Linked DNA regions of Homo sapiens. The protein of the gene in region 2 purifies or fractionates together with the protein of the main gene of each other region. This does not show direct contact. Each region holds a gene or a part of one and is shown on either strand. Other genes may lie near its edges.

Evidence for each region.
Region 1: the proteins of KIF14 (region 2) and URB1 purify together in Homo sapiens (affinity purification with mass spectrometry; 2 studies listed by BioGRID and IntAct, with this or other methods). This does not show direct contact.
Region 3: the proteins of KIF14 (region 2) and OBSL1 purify together in Homo sapiens (affinity purification with mass spectrometry; 2 studies listed by BioGRID). This does not show direct contact.

Annotation. Positions count from the first base shown.
Region 1 is NC_000021.9:32,347,957-32,351,606, reverse strand, and holds part of URB1 (nucleolar pre-ribosomal-associated protein 1), read left to right. Parts: intron 1-684; coding exon 685-903; intron 904-2,123; coding exon 2,124-2,303; intron 2,304-3,650.
Region 2 is NC_000001.11:200,596,743-200,600,392, forward strand, and holds part of KIF14 (kinesin-like protein KIF14), read right to left. Parts: coding exon 3,614-3,650; intron 3,372-3,613; coding exon 3,308-3,371; intron 1,680-3,307; coding exon 1,495-1,679; intron 1-1,494. UniProt on the Homo sapiens protein: Microtubule motor protein that binds to microtubules with high affinity through each tubulin heterodimer and has an ATPase activity. Plays a role in many processes like cell division, cytokinesis and also in cell proliferation and apoptosis.
Region 3 is NC_000002.12:219,561,503-219,565,152, forward strand, and holds part of OBSL1 (obscurin-like protein 1 isoform 1 precursor), read right to left. Parts: intron 2,126-3,650; coding exon 1,853-2,125; intron 1,173-1,852; coding exon 900-1,172; intron 507-899; coding exon of another isoform or gene 382-506; exon of another isoform or gene 220-381; intron 1-219. UniProt on the Homo sapiens protein: Core component of the 3M complex, a complex required to regulate microtubule dynamics and genome integrity. It is unclear how the 3M complex regulates microtubules, it could act by controlling the level of a microtubule stabilizer.

The DNA.
Region 1 (3,650 bases), on a different chromosome or scaffold from region 2:
CTGGGTGGAGCCTGAGAATTTGCATTTCACACATGCTGCTGCAGGCCTGGGGAACACTGACAACCACCAAGTTTCAGGGCATGTTACAGCCTTGGGTTTTATTAGCCTAAGGAAGTCAAATGGAATTATAGCAACATAAGCCACGTGGAGTAAATAAAGAAGGCAGCTTGGTAGTAATGTTAGAAGAAATGAATAACTTCAGTTTGAGGCAGAAGGGCTCCAGAAATTTCTCTGTGTTCTGCCCATCTTCTGTCCTTCTAACAAGATATTCGACCCGCAGCTCCTGGGGAAGGTCTTCCGAAGGCAGGCCACTCGCAGAGCGGGCTTCTCTGTGGGCTGATTTCCCCCTTTCTAGTGATTCTTGTGATTCACATCCTGCCTCTGTCACACGTGGCTCCTGCCTGTGGGACAGGCTTCTGCCTTGTTCTCCAAGGGGTGTAGATGCAGCATGAATTTGGGCCTTCACATGTGGTCAGTGGAAACGCTCTAGGAAAGTACGCATGACATGGTACGAGAACTTACTCTACTGAAGTAAAATGCCACACGGTCCCGTATTCGTTAGTCTTATCTCAGCATGTGCTTCTTTGTGAAATGTCCGTTTGTTGTGTGTTACCTGTGCCTATGACCGTTTTCATCTGTGGTGATGTGTCTTTCTCTTCCCCGGCCTTTTGCTGTCTCCCTCAGCTGCTGCAGGCACAGGGCAGCCCCTCGCCCCCTGCCCTTCCCTTGGCCTCGTCCTTCACAGCCCTGCTGCAGGCAGCCTACGAGAGCCAAGCGCTTCGGGACGAGCACATCCAGGTGCAGCTGCAGGCCACCATGCCACACCTGTCCATGCAGCAGGTCCTGCTCGCGGCCAAGCAGGTGTTGCTCTACCTGCGGAGCACTGTGGAGAACTTCGGCCAGGTCAGCGTTGCCCCCATCCTCCACAGGCTTCAGAGCTCTGCCACCAGAGAGCTAAGCCTTCTCTGAGTCGGGCCCACAGCCCAGCACACTCTTGCTCCCTGGAACTCACTGCAGAGGCAGTTTAAGTGCTGTTCTGTCCAGACCTCAGCTGCAAACTCTTCATGTCCCTCAGCCCTGCCCATGGGAGCCAGGTCAGCCTGACTTTGTTTTCAGGGCAGCCTGGTCAAGACAGAGCCCTTCCTACAGTAGAATGGGTTGGCAGCCCTGCCGGGCCTTTGTTTTTTTTGTCACCAAGTCTGGAGTGCAGTGGCGCATCATAGCTCACTACAGCCTTGACCTCAGTGGACTCAAGCCACCCTCCAACCTCTCAGCCTTTCAAGTAGCTGGGACTACAGGCATGCACCACCATTCCCAGCTAATTTTTGTGTTTTTTGAAGAGATGGGTTCTCACCATGTTGGTCAGGCTGGTCTCAAACTCCTGGGCTCACAGTGATCTGCCTGCCTCAGCCTCCCACAGTGCTGGGATTGCAGGCATGAGCCACCGCACCCAGCCCTCCCTCCCTCTTTTTTTTTTTTTTCTGAGACAGAGTTTCGCTCTTGTTGCCCAGGATGGAGTGCAATGGCAGGATCTTGGCTCACTGCAACCTCTGCCTCCCGGGTTCAAGCTGTTGAACCCTCAACAGCAACCCTCAGCTCACTGCAACCGTCAGCCTCCCTAGTAGCTGGGATAACAAGTGCACACCAACACGCCTGGCTAATTTTTGTATTTTTAGTAGAGATGGGGTTTCGCCATGTTGGCCAGGCTGGTCTTGAACTCCTGACCTCAGGTGATATACCCGCCACAGCCTCCCGAAGTGCTGGGATTACAGGCGTGAGCCACTGAGCCTGGCCCAGCCCTCCCTCTTAAGTGTATTAATTTAGTAACTGGCTGATGAATTTCTGTTCCTGATGTGGTTCAAGGGATTTTTAAGTTTTGAGGTGGGCCTGTCCCTTTCAGTTTAGTCAAAACAACCTTTGTGTTTCACCAAGGCTTAGGAAGACACATCTCTTATTTGAGAAATGGCATTGCATTGATGGGTGTCTCACACACTCTGTGAGGAGTTGCCATCTCAGCCTGCCTCCCGAGTCTCCTGCTCTGAAAACACGGGCCCTGGAAGTCACTGCCTGGTAGCTGTGAACCCGTCTCTTCCCTGCTGAGGCTCGTGCTCTTGTCCTCACAGCTGGGCAGAAGTGTGGGCCCGCCCCTCCTGCAGCTCTTCCTGGATCTCCTCAGGCGCCTGGTTGTCCACTGTGAGCAGCTGGATGCCCAGAACCAGCAGAGATGCGAGGCCGCCCGGGCCGAAGCCGACCTCTTCCTGGACATGGAGTCCGTGGCCTCGCTGGAGTTGGCCAATGATCAGGTACCGCCACAGGTTGCCTGGTAGCCTATTCTCAGAGTCATGGGCAGTGGCTTTCTCTTCACTTCTGATTAAAAACAAACATAGGTCCATTGTGGGAAAATTGGGAAATGCAGAAACTACAGCAGAGATCATAAAAACTTCCTGGCACCCGCCCAGCATGCGGTTTAATTTGGGCTTCTCTTTCCTGTTGCTTTTCTGTGTACAGTCACCCTCCCTGCAGACAGCTTTCTCTCACGCTGTGTGAGGTGAGCCTGCTGAGAAACAGTGTGAATAGCTGCAGCTTGTGTTGAGTGAAAGGTGGGCAGCAGGTGCTGCTTTTCACAGGAAATACACACAGGAAATAGACTGCTCTGAGAAGCAGCAGCCTTTCTGTCCTGTTGGGAGTCTTGGGAAGCAGGCTGTTTAATTGGGGCCAAGATGACTATTTCACAGTTTGCCATGTAACCTGTTTTACCGGGTTCAGGAGGCAGACACGTTCCTTGTTGCACAATCTAATTGAAATATACACTTTTTTCCTTTGAGCTCTGAGTTGCCTTTCTGGGAGGTATTTTCTTGGGTGGGACCACCTATTATTAGCCAGTCAGCGTGAGGCAAAGCATTCTCAATATGTAATCGTGCTTTGCTGTTTTTAACTGGTAAAGCTTGAGTGGAGACTGTGATAGGCTCCTCTTTCCTTCCCTAAGAATAAATAAGGAAAGAAAATTTCTTTCTGTCTCTGGGAACTGGTGGAGTGTCGTTGGCGAGGAATCGGTTCAGCAGGGCTGTGAGGAATGACTGAATGAAATTATTCTCTAATCCAGCAAGGGAGCTCAACTGCATTCTGCTCAATGTTTACTCAGTTGGCCAGGTCAGAACTAGTTTGGGGGTTTTGTGGGGTCACTCAAGGCCCAGTCTCCTCCTGACAGTGGAGACAGGATTACTTTCAATTCAGGATCGTAGACACACGGTGGTTTAATCCCAACCCACTTTCCCCGGACACATGGTCTCATCTAAACTGACATCACCCCAGCTGTAAGTAGACACCCCTGTCCCTCAACCAGATTTATCTAGGAGGGCAAGGCCGCTGAGGAGAAGCCAGCAGCTGATTGATCTTACTCACATGGTGGTGTTTCTGCACGGCCCGCCCCCCACACTGAGTGACCATAGAGAGCACTTTTCCCATGCTGGAAATTCACCCAGGCTGGGTTCTTCAGACACGTGCTCGCAAATGTGGGTGGGGCACCAGCCAGGTCACAGTCCAGTCCTTCCGGGGCAGGTGGAGTGTCTCAGGCGATTGTGGTATAACTGGATGACAGCTCTGGCTGGGCTTGGCTGCGATGCCTTGGGCACCCCGAGGGGGGCATGGAA
Region 2 (3,650 bases):
TCAGTAGAGATGAGGTTTCACCATGTTGGCCAGGCTGATGTTGAACTCCTGGTCTCAAGTAATCTGCCGCCTCAGCCTCCCAAACTGTTAGGATTATAGGCGTGAGCCACCGCACCTGGCCAGAACACTCTATCTCTCTCTCTCTCTTTTTTTTTTTTTTTTTTTTTTTTTGAGACATAGTCTCGCTCTGTCACTCAGGCTGAAGTACAGTGGCATGATGATCTCGGCACACTGCAACATCCACCTCCTAGGTTCAAGCGATTCTCATGCCTCAGCCTCCTGAGTAGCTGGGATTACAGGCAGGTACCACCACGCCCAGAAAATTTTTTGTATTTTTAGTAGAGACAGGGTTTCACCATGTTGCCCAGGCTGGACTCAAACTCCTGAGCCCACACACCTGTGCTAGGATTACAGGCATAAGCCACCACGCCCAGCCAGAACATTCTTTCTTTAAGACATAAAAACTGACAATCATAAAGGAAAAGACTGATGCCAGGTACTACAATAAAATTAAGAACTTCAATCAATCAAAGGCACCAGAGAGAGTAAAAAGATGTTACACGTTAGAAAAAAAGATATTTATACCAAAAAGCTCACGAAAGATTGGCAACTCCTACAAATTATTAAGAAATAAGCAAATCAGTTGAAAAATCAACAAAAGATATGAAGAGGCAAGTTACAATAGTAAACAAAAATGGCCAATCAACACATGAAAAGATGTTCAACCTTATTATTAATCAAAGAAATGTAAAATGAATCCATAATGATATACTATTTAGTGTTCATCAGATTGGCATAAAGTCTGACAGTACTAAGTATTGGCAACGATGTGGAGTAACAGGTATTCTCAAGGCCAATGGGAGTAAAAATTCATTTTGGAAAATAATTTGAAATTAGCTACTAAAGTTGAATATGCACATATTCTACAACCTAGTATCTCTACTCTCAGACATACAATTTAAAAGCACTTCCTAAACTTTATAAGAGATAAACTCATACAATGGAATACTTCATAGCAGTGAAAATAAAACAGGAACCAATGTACACAAATCTTGGAAACACAATGCAGAGTCAAAAAAGTTTACATACGCTATCATTCCAACAATATATACAAGTATTCCATTCATATGAACAAAATTCACATAAAGTAACATTTTTAAATTGGTCAATCCAACCAAAAATTCTGTTATGTAAGATAGATAGTTTACTTGCATGTGCATCATTATAATTGCAAGAAAATAAATTATTCTTCAATCAACAGATCAAGTATGCCAAAACAAAAACAGAGAGAGCATTACACTGTACTTTATATTGAGAGTAACTGACCTATCATCCTTATAACACACTCAGAATGTATGTTTTTCCTGACTAAACAATGGGTTTGAAGAATTCTACCAAACGATCAGTATCAACGAATATGCCATATGAAGGAAACCACATGTTATCAAGATATAGAACAGGTGCCTTTTCTTTTTTTTTAGAGGATTAACATACCAATGATCATCAGCAATCAGCACCCCAGATAACTGAATATCATGGCTTGAGTTTGGTTTATACTTTCCAACTGTAGTTGTTCCTTCTTTTATCATATATAGCAGCATCTCAGATAGTTGTGGATCTTCATTCAGATTAACAAGGTTTGGTAAATGATTGTCCATTTGAAACATAATTCCTGCTTTCTGGTAGAAGTCAGAAAAAGAAATTAATCTTAATCACAGTATGAAATTGTTAAATTCACCTAAAACAAATGGTCTATATTAAACATTAAAACAATTCTATATGAAGTCTCACTAAATTAAAGGTTATTTATTTATTTTTTTATTTTTATTTTTTTGAGACAGAGTCTCGCTGTGTCACCCAGGCTGGAGTGCAGTGGCACGATCTCGGCTCACTGCAACCTCTGCCTCCTGGGTTCAAACGATTCTCCTGCTTCAGCCTCCCAAGTAGCTGAGACTACAGGCGCATGCCACCACGCCCGGCTAATTTTTGTATTTTTAGTAGAGATAGGGTTTCGTCATGTTGATCAGGCTGGTCTCGAACTCCTGACCTCAGGTGATCCACCCGCCTCAGCCTCCCAAAGTGCTGGAATTACAGGCGTGAGCCACCGTGCCCGGCCATAAAGGTTTTTTAGACTCTCTCCTCCTTCCTTAGAATCTCTCCTTTGTGACCTCCCTACCTTCTTTGTCCTTCACCATCCTCAGTCTACTCATACATCAATCTATCATCACCAAATTGTGTCTTCTTATTGACTGACCGTCTTTAGAATAGATCAGTTTGTTTTGTTGCATCTTCATTGCCTTCACCACAGGCCCCTGTCAACTCACACCAAAACTACTGAAGCAGCCTCTTGATCACCGTCAACAGCTTCTGTTTTCAATCCATCTTATATCCTATGCCAGGTTAATTCTCTCGAAAGGGTGCTCTCAAAATGTAAATTCCCTGGTCACTTTTTAACAGCTTCTCACTTCCTACAGGATAAAACTTAATTTCCTTGGCCTGGAAATCAAGTCCTTCATAAACTAATCATAACATATCTTTCCAATTGTATCTCCTTATGATCTCATATAAACTGCTTCCAGTAAAACTGATCTACGTACCCTTTCTAAAGACAACTCAAACTTTTCTACCTTTACTTTCAGAGAATTTTCTCTTCCAAGAATGTGCTCTTCCTTTTCTCTTCCTATTAAAATCTTACCCAAACTTCAAAGCCCATCTCAAATGCCACCTCTTTTATGAGATTGGATTGGCCATGCGCAAGGAATTTTCCCTTCTTCTCCTGAATTCTTATAGTACTCCCCCACTACCAATCACTTGAAATACTTTTCATTACATTAGGTTCAACCATATGAAACTGCCAGTGTTCAACCATGCTTTACCTACAAAAATGGCAATTGCTTATGGCTCAATCTACTGAAATCACATTGCATTTCAGTCTTCTATTTACGTTTTGTAAATCTCTCTCTGGATCACAAGCTCTCTGAGGGATGAAACTGTGTTTAATCACCTTGGCTTCCCCTGTTCCTGAAAAGCATAGACATTTAATATATATTTGTAGAACCAAAGTAAATATAACAAGATGGTTTATTCATACTTTAACTTTCCAACTAGTTTATGGGCTGGCTCTAAGCAACCAGTCTTGATCTTAACATTTCTTTATATTAATTTTCCTTACGGTATTGCTTTGTACAGAGTCAGTATATAGTAAGTATTTGAAACATTAAATTTACATGCATTGGCATATTGGCAATATTTATTTCTTGGCATATTTCTTTTATTTTCTAATCAGTTTAGAAAGTTGAAATAATACCTGTAACTCTTTTGTTTCTTGAAGTTTTCTTTTTTCAGCTTGTTCAAACTTTTCTTTCCACACTCTTTCCAAAGACAAAGAAAATAACAGAGTTAAAAACATCCAGATGTATAAGATTGAGAGTCAAGAGACAATCAATGAAAATTAGGCAACTACCTAGTAATATTTAAAATATGATAATCTGGGAGTGGGCTGCTCTATTCATAAGGAAGGTCGGAAAAATACTCAGTATCCTCTTGAGGTCCCTGCCATTCCTATGATTCCAGAGCAACACACTTAACATTTAGAGTACTGACTGTACTCTACCTTTGCATTTCTGCCATGTCTCTCTCCTGTTGATGCA
Region 3 (3,650 bases), on a different chromosome or scaffold from region 2:
CCCTAGACTGGCCCTCAACAACCCATGCTCTAAGATCCTGGAATGCGTCTGGCTTTCCTGCCAGGCTGTGCAGTCCTAGAGGGAAGCGGCCGTGTCTGCGTGCTGCTGGCTCCCGTGTGTGGAAGGGTGACTTTCTCCCAGGCCTCCCTGACCCTCCTGCTCTGTGCTCTTGAGCCCTCTGCCCTTGGCCCTCACAGTACTTATCACCAGGTGTCACTGTACATTTATTTGCATGTTTATTGGTTTAACACAGGGGTCGCAAACTCAAATGCCCACAGGGGCCAGGTTAGGTTAGCGGCTGAAGCAGTCTGGGGAGAGGCAAAAAGCAATGGCAGGGAGGTGGGACAGAGGAATGTGGGCCCCAAACTATGGGGGCAGCTGCTACTCAGTGCCAGCTGTTCGTCGCCATGGGGGGAAGCGGGACCAGAGCCGCCGGGTCTTCGGCTTTTTCAAGAGGACGCATAACTCCGGATTGTTATTTGAACTGTCCTGACTTTGGTAAGACTCTGCAGACCAAACAAAGCACATGTGTGGAATGCGCAGGGCCCCAGGACTACCCGTTTGCGACCCCTGGTTAACAGCTGCCTCCTCACCTAGCCTGGCAGCTCATTCAGAATAGGGACCGTATTTGCATTACTCACCTGCTACTCCCAGTGCCTGATTCAGGGAAAGTGCTCAGTAAATGAGCTGTGGAGCAGAGCTAGGCCTGGCCTTGGGCACCGGGGAGGGGCTTGTTTCCTTGAATAGGGGCCCTGGGCTCATCTCAGCAAGAACCCTGGCACATGCACCTGCAGCCCACACCTCCCTCCTCCCCGGGGTGCTAGCTGGGGCTATGTGGCCAGCTCCTCCAGGGCTCAGGGCTGTCTCTGTGACCCCGGGGAGCTGGGCTGGGCCCACACCTGTGACGGTGACAGTGAAGGAGGCCGACTCATCGTCAATTTCACACAAGTACTCGCCGGAGTCCTCGAGCTGGACAGCGGGCAGCACCAGGCGGCGGACAGTGTCTTCCTTCTGCAGGAGCAGCGCGGGGCTCTCCACCACCTCCTCTCCATCCTTGGTCCAGCGCACCTCTGCCCAGGGCCGGCATAGCTCACAGGTCAGCACCACACGCTCCAGGCGCACGGCTGCCACATACACCTTGCCGCTGGGATACACGATCCACGAGGAGACGTCTGGAGGACAGGGACAGCCACTGCCGGGCATGAGGGGTGTGCCCTGCCGTCCTCCCTGACCCCGTTGTGTTCCCTACCCCTGGAAAGTAGGCCATGTGTTGAAGAGGGACCTTCCTGAGACCAAATCTCACAGCAGCTGACAGTTACTCACAGCTAGAGACACACGAATACAGCTGTCACAAAAGCACAGCAGACTTTCTGCTGCGCAGGAGCTGCACAGAGGGGACCACGGGGTCAGCCTCGGCTGTAGAAACGCTCCACATTCTCTGGGTTGGGACAGGGACGGTATGAAGGGTGGAACTGATGAGAGGAGGGTTGGGGGGAGGAGCTGGGGGTCTCCTCCTCCAAGATGTTTTTGCCCCCCTAGTGCCTGAGACCACCAGCCCTAGACTCTGCCCTACCCTGCAATAGACTCACTGTCCCCAGAGATTTCCCTTGGTACAGGTTTTCAGGAGAATAGAGAAAGCCAGGCTTCCTTAGCCAAGACCAATGTGCTTATGATAACACGTTTCCTGAATGTGACTAGACCATAGCTTGAGGAGAAAGGGAGGAGGTCCGATCTGCCAGGGGGAGGGCAGTAGGGGCGGGGAACAGTGGCCTGGGAGTGAAGGTGTGGCAGCTGTTCCAGTGGGAGCAGGGGCACCTTCCCCTGTGCCTCCGAGGCCCACCTGGCCCCCCACCTGTGATGGTGACAGTGAAGTAGGCACACTCATCTCCAGCGACGCACTGAAACTCGCCCCCGTCTGAGGGCTGGGTGGCGGGCAGCACCAGGCGGCGATGGGGCCCCTCATTCTCCAGCACCACGAAGTCACTCTCCTCCACCTCCTGCCCGTCCTTGTACCAACGCACAGGGGCGTCCTCTCGGTCCACCTCACAGGCCAGCATGACACACTCGGAAGTTATGGCATGCACGAACACATGTTCTCGGGGGTCCACGATGTGCACGGGAGGATCTGGGTGGGAAGCAGAGATGGCATTGCACAGACACCCCCGCACAATGAGTCCAAACTAGCTGTGTGGCCAGGAGACACTGTTTCTGCACAAGAGGACACTGGAGGAGGGCTAAGGTCCTGCTGTGTAGGGACTCAGGGACAATGACAAGGAATGCTGAGGGCATGGCAGGTGAGGCATGGCAGGAGATCATGTGGCACCAGAGTGCTCTGTAGGTCCCCAAAGGATCAGAGGTGGCGGGGTGAGTACATAGAGAGAAGGAAGCACAGAGAGTTCACAGAGTGGCAGCCACCATTTGTCTAGGCTGAAGGGAGGTCACTGTCACAAGTCACATCAGGGCCATGCTTACTGCCTCTATTACGAGAAAGACCCCAGGGTGGGCAGGAGGTGAAGGATGATCCAACAAGTGGCAACAGTGAGACAGCCACTCTCCAGGTAGTGGGTTCCCTGTCACTGGGTGCATTCAGGCAGGGGCCACAGTGTGGAAAACAGGACTCCCACTCAGTGAGATGAGTGGGATCCATGGTTCCCAAGCTGCTCTCTCAGAGAGTCTGCACTTGTTAGGAAAGGATCTTCAGGCTCCACCCTGGATACTGGGGCTCTGGACAGTCCAGGGATTTATAACCAGCTTCCAGGAGCTTCCTAAAGCAGCCAGCCTACGGACTGCCTTGTGAGAACCACGGGGTGACTGCACTCGATGCTTCTGTTTGACTCTATCTGAGGCAGCAGGAACAGAACAATCCTGTGTGTGTCGCCAAGCTATGGTGTGACGGAGGTCACATAACCTCTTACAGCCTCCATTTCTTTGCCTGTGAACTGGAGATATATTGCCCCTCATCGAGTTGTGAAGATTAAATGAAAGAGTGTATATTGAAAATACTTAGCATAGTGCTTGGCTCAGAGTAAGTGTCCAAAAAGTGTTTGCTCCCATCTCTCCTCCCCTTAATTGCATTTTGTTCCCCCACCCAACCCAGCAGAGGCTATGTGGACAGCGAGACAGTGTTAGTGTATCAGGGGTTTAGGAGGCAAAGGCACGCTGTGCGTGGCACACACCTATAATCCCAGCTGCTCAGGAGGCTGAGGAAGGAGGATCGTTTGAGCACAGGAGTTCAAGGCCAGCCTGGGCAACAGTGAGACCCTCATCTTAAAAAAAGAAAGAAAGAAAGAAAGCCAGGCATGGTGGCTCATACCTATAATCCCAGCATTTTAGAAGGCTGAGGCGGGCAGATCATTTGAGGTCAGGGGTGACCTAACCAACATAGTGAAACCGTCTCTACCAAATAATAAAAAAATTAGCTGGGCGTGGTGGCGCGCACCTGTAGTCCCAGCTACTTGGGAGGCTGAGGTGAGAGAATCGCTTTAACCCAGGAGGCGGAGGTTGCAATGAGCTGAGATCACGCCACTGCCCTCCAGCCAGGGCAACAGAGTGAGAGCCTGTCTCCAAAAAAAACAAGAAACAAAAAAGCAAGTGCAGAGTTATCTGAAACATGTCCCCTGGGCCACTGGACTCTCCCTGTAAAGGACTCC